2 separate regions of the Homo sapiens genome follow, and region 1 is linked to region 2. The links come from fine-mapping of genetic effects on gene expression. Tissue or cell type: thyroid. Region 2 holds a variant in brackets; the other region holds the start of a gene. All regions are shown on one strand. Distances are from middle to middle.

Evidence for each region. PIP is the estimated chance that this variant, and not a neighbour inherited with it, causes the effect.
Region 1: it holds the start of BRCC3, and the variant in region 2 is fine-mapped to the expression of BRCC3 in thyroid (GTEx, PIP above 0.99).

What each region holds. Positions count from the first base shown.
Region 1 is chrX:155,068,187-155,076,391 of GRCh38, reverse strand. BRCC3 (BRCA1/BRCA2-containing complex subunit 3) reads right to left here and starts at 4,884. Exons shown (of 11, transcript NM_001018055.3): 1 at 4,742-4,884; 2 at 4,049-4,065; 3 at 2,961-3,015. The coding sequence starts at 4,864. It overlaps CMC4 (C-X9-C motif containing 4), which reads left to right and starts at 5,256. Exons shown (of 3, transcript NM_001018024.3): 1 at 5,256-5,698. MTCP1 (mature T cell proliferation 1) reads left to right here and starts at 5,256. Exons shown (of 5, transcript NM_001018025.4): 1 at 5,256-5,698. RefSeq lists enhancers at 3,901-4,622, 4,579-4,628, 4,639-4,858, 4,623-5,344, 5,329-5,628 and a silencer at 4,969-5,288.
Region 2 is chrX:155,104,507-155,112,506 of GRCh38, reverse strand. The region is part of intron 7 of BRCC3 (BRCA1/BRCA2-containing complex subunit 3); the gene reads right to left. Among named protein-coding and RNA genes, the nearest start is that of BRCC3, 37 kb to the right of the region's middle. The variant G/A (reference allele first, on the strand shown) is at 3,269.

The DNA.
Region 1 (8,205 bases), 36 kb after region 2:
TTTTTGACACAGTCTCAGTCTGTCGCCCAGGCTGGAGTGCAGTAGTGCAATCTCAGCTCACTGCAACGTCTACCTCCTGGGTTCAAGCGATTCTCCCACCTCAGCCTCCTCAGCAGCTGGGATTACAGGCACACGCCACCATGCCCGGCTTTTTGTATTTTTTGGTAGCCATATTGGCTAGGCTGGTCTCAAACTCCTGACTTCAGGCCTGCCTCGACCTCTCGAAGTGCTGGGATTACAGGCATAACCCACCGCACCCGGCCTCAGAGAGTTCTTTACAGTGTGATAACAGACTAATACAGGAGCTCAGAGGAAAGAACTCACTTATATTAGAAAAGTAATCTTTTACATAAGCAGAATATGAATCTAAAAAAGAAAAAAATCTTCATAGAAAAGGCAGACAAGTGTATCCATTCCTTGATTATTGTGGGAAGTGGGGGGAACAGATTTTCTACAGGTGCCGAATGGAAGTAGTAAAGTGTGAATGAGGTGTCTGGGAGACAACTTACCCAACTGATTTAGATACAGAGCTTGAGGTGAAATGGCAGATGGCAAAGCTAAGAAAGTTGGAGTGAGAATGTACAAGACCTCAAATGCCAAGCCATAATTTGCAGGATGAACTCGAAGGAAAAAAAATTATTTCAGATAAACTGTACATGAAGTAACAATGAAGTACTGGGCTAAGCAGATGGCAGAGATGGAAGAAACAGATTTGAGACCCATTAAAAAGAATGAATCTACAAGATTTGGTAGCTTATGGACCATGGGTGATGGTGGACAGGAAACGGTCAAAGAGGACTCTAAAGTTTCAAGGTTGAAACTAGGTAGAACGTGTGAGGCAGATCTAAGTTTAGAAAGGGTCAGGAAGGAAAGAAGATGAGCTTGTTTTCAGATGAGATAATCTGGGATGAGAGATATACAATATGGCAATTTTTAGCAGGCAAGTGGGATTATAGCTTAGACTCAAACAGCATCAATGCAGGAATCAATAAAGCATTTATGAGTGGACAAAAAAGGTGTGGAGAAAGGGAGCAGAGGTCTTGGCCTGAATCAAGGGGAGTGGCCACATTTAGTGTGGGGAAGAACAAGAAGGGCCAGGGGAAAGAGTGGGCTTAGCATTATCAGATGTTGAAGGGACAAGGGTGAAATCTGAGAGAAGGCTTTTGAAACAAGCTATAGATTTTCACTGTGCAACAGGTCTGATTTCAGATATGCAGCAAGTATGAAATACACATGGAATTCAAAGACAACACAAAAGAGAAAAAAGGAATGTAAAATATCTCAACATTTCTTAATATTCACTACATATTAAAATAATAATCCTTCAGATACTTAGGTTAACTAAAATACACCCTTCAAATTAATTTCATTTATTCCTTTTTACTGTGATTACTAAAAAATTTAAAATTATGTATATGGATCACATTCGTGGCTCACATGATATTTCTTTTTTTGTGGTTTATTTTTGTTTTGTTTTTCAACTGAATACTCCACTTAAAAAGATTATCACACTGGATTTTTTAAAAAGTATTTACCACTAATAAGAGACACAAGAGACACATTTTAAATATTAGTATACAGAAAGGCTAAAAATAAAAGGATAAAAAATACACTATGCAACACTAAAAAGGCAGCTTAACTAATAAAGTTTAATATCTAATTTAGACAGTACAAACTGACATAAAACTCAAGACGAGGGCATGAAATCTTGAATAATAAAATTACATTATTAAGATTGGAATGTATCTTAGTAACTGATGCCCAGGGTGAATTGTTTCTTTCTCTCTTTCTTGCTTTAGTCAGAGATTTCAGTGCCTAAGAGGAATGAGTAATATTTAATGCATAGACAGAGGAGGAAGAGGAGTCCACAAAGGATTGTGGGAAGGGGGAAACAGGAATAAAGGCAATACAACAAAACCAACAAAAACTCATGAGAGTTTAGAGATTCAAGGAGAAAGATGAAGATAAGCACCAGGAAATAATCCACCGAAGGTAGAATTAGAAACCAGACCTCAGTGGGTTTGACTGGGGAAGGTGAAGGAGTAGTAATTGTAGCCCATTCTTTTAAGAAGTCTGGCTATTAAAGGAAGGATATAAGAGTACTGACTACAGGAAGATACGGGATTAAGAAGTAGCTTTCCTTTCTGAAAATGAGAGTAATTTAAGCATATGTTTATCCTAAAAGAACCAGGTGACAGGGAGAAGACCCAGAAAAGAGACAGAACATTTGATAAACAAGGTCTCTGAAGAAGCTGCAGCTTTGGATAGGAAGAGGACTTATTTCTTTGATATGGGAAGAGATGCAAAGTGATTAAGGTGGAGAAGTTTGTAACTAGTAGTAATAAGTAGATGAAGGTGTGGCCTGATAACTTGGTGGGAGGAGGGGAAGTAATTCATTTTTTTTGTATTTTACAAAAGCATCGGTCTGTGACAGACTGGGGGAAACGTTAACTGGTCCGATACCACGATTAGGTGAGAAGCATTACACTAGACCATCAAGGCTAGAGCATGCCACAAAAGATGGTGTAGGAGTGCAGATAGGAAAAAAGTCAAGGCAGACTAAGAACTATGATGCTATGGTCAGTTTGCCTGTTTAAGAAGAGAGGGCTGCATGAGTAGATGTTGGAATTCGAGATAAAGAGGTAATAGTGATGTGAAAGTATCAAGGATGCCAAAGTATCAAGGAAAGTGGGAGAAGGGCCAGAAAACAGGCAGTGACAGCAAGGAGAGCAGCAAGAGGGTGGTACTGACAGTGATTATTAATCTTGATCAAGTAGAGACAATTTGCTACAAAGAACAGAAAATTAGGTCCCATTCCTAGTGAGTAGATTCTTCATCTGATTTTACTAGAAAGAATATCTCATCCAGCCAGAAACCGCATACTCTGGCTGAGATCACTGGATTACAGAAATCTTTCCCCAACTGCAAGTTTCCATCATGCAAAATTTTAGCACACATACCTTTTCAGCAACTGTGCGCATTTCAGTTCCAGTATATGCAAATTTGGAGTCACTCCTACTGGGAATAAATTAGAAAAAAAAAAAGGAAGTGGGGTTTGGAATATAAAAAGGAATTAAAGCAAAATAACAGGATTAACTGTTTTTGCAATGAAATCTTAGCAGAGACCAAAGAAGAGGAGGGAAACTGAATTGAGGCTAGAGCTGCACTCTATCTGTTAGAAGCAATCTGGGACACATGCACAAGTGGCTGAGTGTATAAAGTTATAATGGACAAAGCTAAATTCCTGGAATCCTGGGAACTAAGGAGGTGGGCTTGAGAAGTATACTATGGTATGATTTGAAGTTTAAATTAAAATGTTACCGAAAGGTTTCACCACGTCAAGTATTGAAGCTACTGGGGATCTCTGAGATCACTGAGGTCCATCAGGAGGAAAGGCAATGTCACTGTCAATTTACGTGAAGGAATGGATCAATGGGGAAATGCCTCTAAACGTATATGCTCTCTGTCACTAAGAAAATTACTGATATCTCACTGGCATTTAAGGGGAGACAGAACATGAAATACACTGAGCAAGGCCAGGTGTGGTGGCTCACGCCTGAAATTCCAGCACTTGGGGAGGTCGAGGTGGGCAGACTGCTTGAGCCAGGAGTTCGAGACCAGCCTGGCCAACATGGTGAAACCCCGTCTGTACAAAAAAAAAAGACAGCCGGGTGTGGTGGCGGGCACCTGTAATCTCAGCTATTCGGGAGTCTGAAGTATGAGAATCGCTTGAACCTGGGAGGCGGAGGTTGCAGTGAGCAGAGATCGCGCCACTGCACTCCAGCCTGGGCGACAGAGTGAGGCTCTGTCTCACCCCTAAAACGCAACAATTATGATAATGCTTATTAAGATGTTTATCCCATATCTCAACTGAATAGGAGGTAAGGCAGAAACCAAAGTTCAAGGTTGTATCATTAAGGGAGCCCCGGAGTGATAATGGTAATTAATTTAAGACACGATCCGGACACAATACTGCCAAAGTCGCCATAATTTTAGGTTAACAATGACTTAGAGATTATAAGATATGAGTAAACAAATACAGTCTTACCTTGTATCATCGTTCAACTAGAGTGGGAAAAAGCAAAAAACATTATTGATCACATTACGTTTGTTTGACATATATGGATGCAGATTATATGACAATTAGGTCATGTGTTCACGCACATGGTATGAAAGACTGGAGAATTACTTTAGACTGTAAACAGCTAAACTGTATTTCCTCATCCTCTTCGGCCCCTCCTCAACACAATGCAGCGGAAACTTTTGCTTCCTTCAAGCCCCGCACCTTCTGTTAGGCTCTTCGATACCCTTCAAATGCTTTGGTTGATATCTCTGCTCCCTAGACAGAAGACTCGAGGCGAGGCAAGGGGCTCTAACTGTGGTCAGCTGCTGCGTCGTAATACCCGGACATCCTCATTATACTCCAGTGTCTTTCTGACCTGCCTTGCAGTTTTGGTCAACCGGGCGAAAAGCGCAGATCTAAAGAGAAGCCCCAGGCTACAGGAGAAAGGGCAAGGCTCCCGGGGCCTGTACAGACCGCCGGGGGCTCGCAGGAGACTAAACAAGTGTCAGGCGGCCAGAAGAAACGGGGCTCCCCGCGACAGAGCTATGTAAAGGGTGTCCAAGGACCTAAATCGAGGATGCCTGTGGCCTCCGCAGCCCTGGGAGCTGCCGGCACCCACCCCGGGGACACACTGGGACTGCTCAGCAGGGTTCCATCCAGGCTAACAGACCTACTCACCTCCCCTATGCACAGCCCCATTACTTCCTCCTTCTCTGTGCTCAGAGCGTGGTTGAGACAAACGAGGAAAGCGTCAGACTCGAGATGAACCGCCTGCACCGCCTGCACCACCTGCACCGCCATCTTGGCCCGACCCTTCTCACGTCCGCCTCGGGCCCACTTGGTCCTGACCAACCGGGTGCTGCGGCGCAGCCTCCCCAGCGCCCAGCGCTGTGCGCTCCGCCCAGGCCTGGCCTTCGGCGCGCGGGTTCCTAGGGGGCGGGGCTTAGGGAGCGGGCGGGGCTGTGGGGGCGGGGCTGTGGGGGCGAGGAGGGGGCAGCGGGCGCGCGGCTGGCGCGCGGGGGCGGGCCTTGGGGCACGGGGGCGGGGCCCGCCCAGCAGCACCTGGGAAACGCCCGCGCGGTTTGGGGCAGGCGTGGCCGTCGGGGCGGAGGGCGGTGGCCGGCCGCGGTCCGGGCGTCAGGCCGGGCGGCGGGGGCGGCAGGGAGGCGGCGCTCTGGGGCCGCAGGCGGACGTACTCTGTGAGCGGCGCCCGGGCGCCTGGGCAGGCGCCTCCCGAGTACCGGCGCCCATTTTGCCCGCCCGCTAAGGAGACCCGTGCGCGGCCTACACGCTTGGGGGACAGCCCTTTAAGACGACATCTCCGCGAACGCCGGCCTCTTGAGCCAGGGGGACGCTCTTTTGAAAGTCAGTCCCAAAACAGTTAAGGTTTTATTTTATTTTGTTTTATTTCCAAGTCACAGCCCCCGAATCTCGTACAACTCTCCCTGGACCACTTCCGGTTGCCGGCCCGCGCCTCATAACTTCGGTTCGAGTGACCTCGGCCCGGGATGCCCCTCGGCTCACCCCGGGCTCACGTCGCGATCCTGGCTTGAGTGGCCCAGGGTGGGAGACCTGGAAGTTTTAGCCTAGCTGTTCTCAAGGCGGATTAATTAGCCCAAGAAACATTATATTCATGTGAGTAACCTTTTGCAGAAACAGTGTTATACTGTATCTGAAAAAGTATCACTCTTAAGCTTGGCTGCTGCTACTTTCTACAAAGGCTTTTAGGTAGCTATTTGTTGGATACAGGGAAGGGGAAATGGAGAACTTCAGTTTTTATTCAAGTTCGGATGTATCACATTAGGTATCCAGAATGCAAGTTTCCTCGGGTCTCCTTGTCTCGATGATATCAGACAGTAAAAATATATGTAAAAGTAATTTTTATTTCGAGGTATGTCAAACGTGCCAAGGATAAAAGTACAGATCTTCCAACTCACAAGTCTAGGAATCACACGTGGATTTTGAAAGCGATTCTAAATCAAAGCACAATATATGCCGTGCCGCCTCCACAGCCCGTCCGTGTTCGTGTCTTTGATTTGGTTTTCTACTTTGTGTAGTTTTGAAGCCAGGCAGGTATGGCAGTACTGGAAAGGGAACATTCCCAAGGTGCTACTTGAAGTGTTGATGCTTTGCTCTTTTCTCCCAAGTCAGTTCCAACCCAAGTCTCCCCACACATAGGGTCCCCATCCAGTGCAACGATCTGTAATGTGCACGCCAGCAGCCTCCGTTTTTACCTAACGATCTGTAAGGATCACATGGCACATCTTTCTATAATTAATTTGATCATGATGAAGGTTGGAAAATTTTCGTGTGCAGTTACATTGGACCTGTCTAAATTTTCTCTTGTTTCAATTTTATATCATATGTTATTTTCAGTTACTGTTTGTGGCTAGTATGCCCCGTCCTCATGGAGCAGGAACGGCTGTTCTTATTATTATGACATTAACATTTGGTGATGGGATATAGTGCCTTTAGGCACTTTCAAGAAGAAAAATACCTTTTGTTTGTTATCGGCGGTAGTCAATCTCATATTCCAGAATGAGGTTCACTAACTTTTCTAATGCTCATGGCTGCCTTTTACAGCTCCAGGCATTTAACTGGAGTAGAACAAAATTATTAACATTTATGGCAAGCTTATTATATGCTAGATACTAAGCATTTATATGCCTGGTACATGTAAACTGCCCCATTTGGAGTCAAGCTCAACAACTTCCCCACTGTGTGACCTTGAGCAAGTTACCTAACTTCTCTGTGCCTTTCTTTTCCTCACCTTTAAGTGGGGATGATAATAATTCTGCCCACCTCATAGCGCCCTATGAAGATTGTGAAAATTAAATGAGTCAATATATGTAAACATATAGGAAATGCTAAATAAAGACTATCATGATTAATATGTTCTTTAATTCTCATTTTACACCTCAGGAAACTGAGGTGGAGAGACGTTAACTTGTCCAAGGTCACAAAGCTAGTAAGTGACAGACTCAGGACTCATACACAGGCCTGGGCCTGTGTTCTTGGTAATTTCACTCATTGTAATTGGACGAGTTTATTAATTGACTTCTAATAAAATAAGTGTATTCAACTGATCAATGTTTAAAAACTGTTCATCAACCTGGCAATTAAAGCAAACTATACTTTTTTAAAAAAGACACAAAAGAATTTATTCTGTAAAGGAAAAATGATAGTTTTACTTAGATTACTACCTAAGGAAGCCCTTCTATCTTATATGTCATCCATTTAAAACCTAATTTACAAAATGCCTTACTAAGAAATTGTCTGTCTTGGCCAGTGTGCTCTCTGGCCCCGAAATCAAGGTGACCCTCATGGGGACAATCTCTTCTAGTGGATGATAAAGTTATGCAGTTATCTAAACATTTTTGGAATTCATTTGTATTTGTAGCTGGCAGTATTCCTTGAGTTGAGTTGCACAAGTTTATATTCCATGTATTGTATTGCACCTTGTACCTAAGTCTATGTTGAGGTTTTAAAAGATTCGTCTTAGTTCGAGAAGTCCTGAATTTTGTAAACAAGTATCATGTGCAAATAAAATGTTCTCTAGTCAAATAAATTTGGGAAATGTTAACATAAAGTTTCTTTACTGCATAACTTGCCAGAACAGTTACTACACTAATGTGCTTTATGACTCTCCAAGATTCCCAAACTTATTTGACCAAGGAAAATGTTGGGAGCAAGTTTTCTAAGAATCACATTTTTCCACTCATAAAACCTGTGATTGTATAGGCTTTGATCTGAATCCCTCTCCCTCAGCCTTTGCATTTCTCTGCTGAGGACTTTGTTCATGCTCATATGGTGACTTCTCTGTCCCTTGATCACTGCAGTTGTCTTTCTCTGGGCCTGCATGCCCTCTGAATGCTAGCACACACAATTCCAGGATACTGTGCTGAGAGGTGGTTCCCAAGCTCATCCCGCTGATGCCCAGCATGTTGACCTTTGGGTCACAGCAGCACATCACACTGCCTTTCTTCTGAGAATATTTTGTAGTGACTCATAGGCCTCTTTGTAGTGACTCAGTAACTCAGACCATCATCTCCAAACTCTTTGCCCTCTATTCCACTGGCATTATTTCCTTTTAATGTCAATATAACCAATGCAATTTTGTTTTCCATTCAAAACAAATTTAA
Region 2 (8,000 bases):
TCAGTTACCTGTGGTCAACCACGGTCCAAAAATGTTAGATGAAAAATTCTAGAAATAAACAATTCATAAGCTTTAAGTTGCAGACCTTTCTGAGTAGCATGATGAAATCTTACGCCATCCTGCTCTAACCTGCCCAGGATATGAATCAACCCTTTGTCCATCTGATCCATACTGTATATGATACCTGCCCATTAGTCACTTGGTAACCATCAGATTGACTGTCACGGTATTGCAGTTCTAATGTTCAAATAACCCTTATTTTACTTAATAATGGCCCCAGAACATAGGAGCAGCAATGTTGGCAGTTCTGCTATGCCAAAGAGAAGCCCTAAAGTGCTTCATTTAAGTGAAATGATGAAAAGTATCCAACTTAATTTTAAAAAACGAGAACATATCATATGCTAATGCTGCTAAGGCCTATAGTAAGAACAAATCTTCTATCTTTGAAATTGTGAACAATATATTGTTATAATTGTTCTATTTTACTATTGTTGTTGTTAATCTCATACTGTGCCTAATTTATAAACTAAACTTTATCACAGGTGTGCGTGTATAAGAAAACATGGTGTAATAGGGGTCAGTACTATCTGTGGTTTCAGGCCTCCACTGGGGTTCTTGGAACATATTCCCCAAAGATAAGGGGAGACTGCTTTTTGTAATTTGCCACTATTTTTTCTGATTCTGTAGGTTATTTTCACCTTCTTGATAATGTGCTGTGATGCACAAAAGTTTTTAATTTTTATCAAATCCAATTTATCTGTTTTTCCTTTCTCCCTTGTGCATTTGATGTCATATTTAAGAAATTAGTGCCAAATTGAAGGTCATGAAGATGTACCCCTATGTTTTCTTCTAAAGTTGTATTGTTTTAGCTCTTCTATTTAGATCTTTGATCCATTTTAATTTTTGTATATTGGGTGAAGATAGTGGTCCAGCATTATTCTTTTTGCATGTGGATATCCAGCTGTCCCAGCACCATTTGTTGAATTGCCTCTTATTTCCCTGTTGAATTATCATGGCACAGTTGTTGAAGATCAATTGACCAGAAATGTACAGGTTGACTTATGGACTCACAATTCTATTCCACTGATTTATATGTCTATCCTTTGCTACCTTTTGTGGTTTTTCTACAGTTCTCTGAAACTCTGTCCCTTTTTTCCCAGTCTTTTCTGTCTGTTATCCAGCTTGGATAATTCTATTAATCTATCTTCAAGTTTACTGACTCTTTCCTCTGGCATTTCCACTGCATTCTCACTTTTAATCTAGAGTTTAAAATTTTTGGTTGTTATATTTTTCAGTTGTAAAATTTACATTTGCTTCTTTTTATCTTCTATTTCTTATATGATACTTTTTCTTTTTAAATATTTGTTGCAACATTTTTGTGACTGATAGCTTGAGCATTTTCATAATGGCAGCTTTTAAAGTCTTGTCAGATATTTCCAACATAAGTGTCATCTTGCCTTTTGTATCTGTTGATTATCTTCTCCCATACAAGATGAGATTTCTGTGGTTCTTAATATGTTAAATAACTTTGGTTTATGTCCTGGTTATTTTGGATATTAAGTTATGAGACTTTGGATCTTGTTTATATCCCCACTTCTGTGGTATTTTGAGTTTTGGGGCCCTTCTCCAATCTGCCTGTTATTTACATTCCAGAGTTCACAAATAGCTAGGCTTGGCATTCTTTCCAGAGTATATAGTTGAGTTCAGTGAGATATAGGGGCAGCATGTGTTGATTTCATCTTATGAAATATTTCTAAATAACACCTACATCAAAGTAAATCACAAGGGTAATAATATCACAAGGGAAATACTTTGAACTGAAGGATAGTAAATAAAAATTATGGATGTACCCAAAGCAGTGCTTAAAGGGACATTTATGGCTCTTTTGAAAAGACTGATATCATTAATAAACCCCCACCAAGACTGATCAAGGTAAAAACAGAGAACACAAAAATTACTAATGTAAGGAATGAAAAAAGAGAAATCACTTCGGATCCTACAAACTTTAAAAGAATAATAAGAAGATATTGTGAACAATGTAAACTAAAGTTCTAGGATAAATTCCTAGAAAAGCACAACTTGCCAAAACTAAAACGATACAGAAAATCAGAATAATCCTACATATTTTAAAGAAACTGAACCTATAATTTAAAACTTTACACAAAGAAAACTCCACACTGACATTGCTAATCTGTTACATTCTATCAAACATTTAAAGAAAAAACCCAAACTTACACAAACCATTTCAGAAAATCGAGATATGGGAACATTTTCTACTTTGTACTATGCAGCCAGCAAAACCATGATATCAAAATCTAGCAAAGGTGTTTAAAGAAAAGAAAATTATGGATCAATCTTATTTATGAAAAAGATATATAATTCCTAAAAAGATTAGCCTAGTGAATACACTAAAGAGATAATATACAGTGACTAAGGAATGCAAAGCTGGGTTAAGATTCAGAAATCAGTTCATGCGACTTACCACATTAAGGCAAATAATCATATGATTATCTTAATAAATGCAGAAGGAGCATTTGATAAAATTCAACATTCAATCATAAAAAAGAGGCTTAGAATACTAGAAATACAAGGGAACTTCCTTAATATGATAGAGGCTAACTACAGAAAAGCTAAATTAAACACCAGAGATAATTGGGAAATTTTAAAGCATTCTCTTTTACATTTTATTCATAAATTTTACTGGAAGACTGAGACAGTATAATAAGGCATGAAAGAGAAATAAAAAGGTGTAAAGATTGGAAAGGGTGAAATTAAATTGCCCTTGTTTATGGAAGACATGACTGTTTACATAGAAAATCCCAAGGAAATAAAATCTGCAGATAAATCATTAGGATTAATAAGTACATTTATATCCATAAGGCTGCTGGATATAAAGCCAATATACATATATCAATTTGCTATCTAAATAACCGGTACCAACTGGAAAATTATGAAAAGATACCAATTACAATAACATAAAACACCAAATTCCCAAGAATAATTTAAATGAAAGATGTGTGCAATCTTTTCAGATGTTTCACAGAAAAATACAAAAGATAGAGAAATTAAAATCTAAATAAATGGAGGGATACATCAAATTGATGAATGGATTCAATTCTATCCCAGTCAAATTTCAGCTGACATGTTTCAGCAAGTTTTCTTGTGGAAATCAACAAACCGATTTTAAAATTTATATGGGGCTACAAAGGGCGAAGAATAGCCAAGACAGTCTTGAAGAATAACAACAAAGGGGAGAACTAATGTTACC[G/A]CATATCATCAAGACTTATTATAAAGCTACAGCAACTAAGTGTGTTACTGACACAAGGATAGACACATAGACAAAACAGAATTCGCCTAGAGTCCAGAAACATAATCATATATATAGGGACGACTGATTTAAGGCAAAGTGGCAAGGCAGCAATAAATGGTGCCAGGTCAATTGGATACACACGTGGGAAAAAGGGAATGTCAACTCACATCCCACATCATATCCTAAAGTTAACACTAAGTAGATTGTAGATTTAAGCACGAATGGTGAAATAATAAAGCATCTCTTCCAGATAGGGAAAGATGTCTTAAATAGTGTAGGACACTAAAAAGCACTAGATCGAAAAGATAAAAAGATAATTTGGACTATTATATTAAATAAACAACTTAGGCTCATCAAATGATACCATTAAGATAGTGAAAACCAGGTCAGGGTGAGAGAGTAGATACTTGGAATAGGTATAGCTGACAGCTTGTATCCAGAACATACTGGAATTCTTTTGAAGTACTAAGAAAGTTAAAGAAAAATGAATATGACTTATACATGAGGGGATATCCAAAAAGCCTATAAACATTTGAAAAGGTGTTCAACCTAATTAGTCACTGGGGAAATCCAAATTAAAACCACAATAAGATACTACTGCACACTCACCAGAACTGCAAAAAATGAAAAAGTCAGAAAATACTAATTGTCAGTGAAGCTGTTAAGCTGTGAAAACCTTCATACACTGTTGGCAAGGATGTGAATTTGGAAACTATTCTACTAAAGTGATAACCCAGCAATTCCACTTCTGTGTACATACTGAAAAGATATGCATTCACATGGGCAAAAAGAGGCTTATGTAAGGATTATTTTCATAGCAGCTTTATTCATAAGAGCCCCAAATTGGAAACAACCCAAATGCCTAACAATAGAACATATAAGTAAATTGTGGTAATTTCCAACAATGAAATATTACACAGCAATAAAAAAGAACTACCATAACAGAGTGAAAGAAGCCATACACAAAGTTGTACTTACCGTATTTTCCCATTTATATAAAATTCAAAAACAGACAAAATTAATCTGTGTTGTTAGAGATTAGGATAATGGTTACCTTTGGGAAAAAAACAAGGGCATAACAATTGAGAGGAGTCACAAAGGAGGCTTCTGGAGGGCTGGTAAGGTTCTATTTCTTGATATGTAGTACAGTTTCACAGGCGTTCACCTTGTAAAAATTCATGGAGCTGATCTGGGTTGTGGTTGCATAGGTGTTTTCATTTTGTGAAAATTGATTGAGCTGGACACTTGTAATTTGTGTACTTTTCTGTATGTTACACTTCAATTGAAAAGCTAAGACCAACCAACCAAACTAAGTTTATGACAAAGAAGCTCTAGAGTATGCTAGAGCTCACAGGTCAGAATGTATGCATTAAAATAGTAGTTTTGAAATCTACAGCTGAAGGGACACTAAACAAATATTTACTGAACACCATGGGAACAGTAATAAAAAAGCATACCTTCTTTCAAGGATCTTACAATGTTAGTGGAAAAACAAAATATTAAAATATAATGTTATAAGTATTACAAAAAGGAAGTATATGATTTTATTAAGTTTCCAGGAGGAATGCTTAACTGGGATGGTATTGGGGGTTGAGAATTATCAGAGAAGGATTCCTAAATTTGATCTTCATCTTCAAAAATGACTAGACATTGGCCAGGTGGTATAAGGAAAAAGGAAACTGTAGGCAGAGTGAGCATATGACAGAGAGAGAACATGGCTGGAGAAATAAGCAAACCATGAAGGGCTGCAGGTTTGGGGCTTTATTCTGAGGGCATTAGGGAGCAGGATCATTTTAGAATAGCTACACCATGATACCAAATTGAAAGGAAGTAAAATGGGTGAGTGCTAAAATTAAAGAACTTTTAAAAAAAAAAATAAATAAAAATACTACTTAGCATCTATGGGATATATTTAAAGCAAAGATCAGTGGAAAATTCACAGCCTTAAGCATTTATATCAATAATAATGAAAGACAAAAAATATACTCATTAAATTCCAAACTCCAAATGCTAAGATAAGCACAACAAAATGACCAAAATGAAACATAAGGAAGGAAATAATAAACATAAAAGAAAAAGTAGTAAGGTTGGGAATAGAAAAAAAATAACTAAATAAAAATCAGTGTTTCAAGGAAAAATAACAAAATTGACACACCACTGGCTAACATAACCAAGGGAAAAAAGAAATAGCACAAATATACAAAATATGAAATGACAAGGGGGAGATAACTATTGAAATACAAGAGATTTAAAATATGACAGACTATCTGGCAGAGAGATCTCTGTGTAAATAAATTTGCAAACCATAAAAAATGAATAATTTCTTAGGAAACTGTACCAAAATTGACCCCATTACAGAAAGAAAGCATAAACAGATAAATTCCCAGAGGAGAAACACAAAAAGGCCTAGTTGATTTCATAGAGGAATTGTCAAAGAACTGATTGTCTCACTGCTACTTACATTTCTGTCACAGCCTAGACAGTGAAAGAAAACTCCAAACAATTCTTCTGAAGCAAGTGTAATATATATACCTAAACCTGATAAAGACAGTACAAAAAAAGAATATTTCTGATAGCACTTATGATTTTTCCTGAATACAGAATCTTTCTTAATGAAGAAATGCTACAGGAATTTCCATAAGGATCAGAAACAAAACAAGATCATCTACTATTTCCACTACTATTTAATGTTCTAAAGAAGATATTAGGCAATGCAGTTATATTTAAGGAATCAATTAGAGGTTTAGGAATTGGGAAATAAGTAAAAGTATTTGCAGATGGAGTGTGATACTTATCTGGAAAGCTCTAGAGAAATAAAGGTATAATTAACTCAAAGAACAAAAGAATTCAGGAAGATAAAAATTTACATACAGAAATAGTAGCCTTCAAATATACAAGCAAAAAACAGAGGATGTAATAGAAAAAAAACATTAACAAAGCAAAAAAGAAGTTAAATGCTTAAGAATAAATTTCAGTATGACATATACAAAACCTATATGAGAAAAACAACACTCCCGAAAGACACAAAAGTAGACTACAGCAAGTGGAAAGACAGCCAGTGCTCTTGGATAGGATGATGCAACATCACAGATTAATTTATAAATTTAACACAATCTCAATAGAAATATCAAAAAGTTTTTATCTGGAGCTAGACAAGTTGATAGTAAGGTTCACATGAAAAACCAAACATGTAAGAATAGTCAGGGTCTTGGATGGGCGTGGTGGCTCAAGCCTGGGCTCACACCTGTAATCCCAGCACTTTGGGAGGTTGGGAGTTCGAGACCAGCTTGGGCAACATGGTGAAACCCTGTCTCCACTAAAAATACAAAAATTAGCCAGGTGTGATGGCACGTGCCTGTAATCCCTGCTACTCAGGAGTCTGAGACAGGAGAACAGCTTGATCCCGGGAGGCAGAGGCTGCTGTGAGCCAAGATCGCACCACTGCACTCCAGCCTGGACAACTGGGCGAGACTCCGTCTCAAAACAAAACAAAACAAAAAGAATAGTCAGGGAAACACTGAGAAAAGAAAAGCTACAATGGAGACTAGCCCTATGGATAATAAAACATACAATAAAGCCACCATAATTTATGTGATGGTAACTAAATGGACAGACAGAATAAAAAGAAAGAGATCCAAGTGAATAGGGAGCTTTCATATATGGTAAAAGGTGGCATGTAAAATTGCTGACATGAAGATAAGCTTTTTTTTAATTATTATTTTCCCTCACTCTGTCGCCCAGGCTGGAGGGCAGTGGCACAATCTCGGCTCACTGCAACCTCCGCCTCCCGGGTTCAAGCAATTCTCCTGCCTCAGCCTCCCGAGTAGCTGGGATTACAGGCATGCGCCACCACACTTGGCTAATTTTTGTATTTTTAGTAGAGATGGGGTTTCACCATGTTGGGCAGGCTGTTCTCGAACTCCTGACCTCAAGTGATCCACGCGCCTCGGCCTCCCAAAGTGCTGGGATTACAGACATGAGCCACTGTGCCCACCTAACACAAACTTTTTAAACAATGGTTTTGTAACAGGTAGATTGCCATTTAGAAAGAGATAAAATTAGATTCATATCTTAGTCTATACAAAATTAACTCTATATAGTTCTGACTTTTGACTTTTTGAACCATGTTGATGTTTCATATACTCTAAAAGGGAAAAAAGTATGAGTTAAAAAAAATCCTAAAATGGAAAACAAGCAAACAAGAAAAAGCTGTCTTTCAAATAAATCATATAACCACACTGAAGTGGTCAGGGGGAAAATAGACTGAACCCAGCTAAGTATTTTGAGTATACACTCTTAGGCATATGTCCAAACTCATCAAAATGTGTACATTAAATATGTGCAATTCTGCATGTTAATTATACCTCAATAAAGCTTAATAAAAAGAACTGTGAATATGAAAAAGGAGAATGCTAGGATGAACCTTAAAGTATGGAAATAGAATTGGAGTTATCAGGTTGAACTCAGAGGTAAACTGGAGAAAGTTTCCCAGCTGAAGCACAAGGAGAACCCCCAGGTAGGGCTTGGCAGATGCCGAGTTGAGAAAATGGAGCTGAGACTCTGGGAAGGCCAAGATAGCTTGTGTTTGCAAAGTAAAGTACCGTAGAGGAAAGAGCTGCATAGGAAGAGAAACAACATGTCCAGACCCTCCAGTGAACTCCAAAGTATGCACAGGGGCAGGAATAGCATC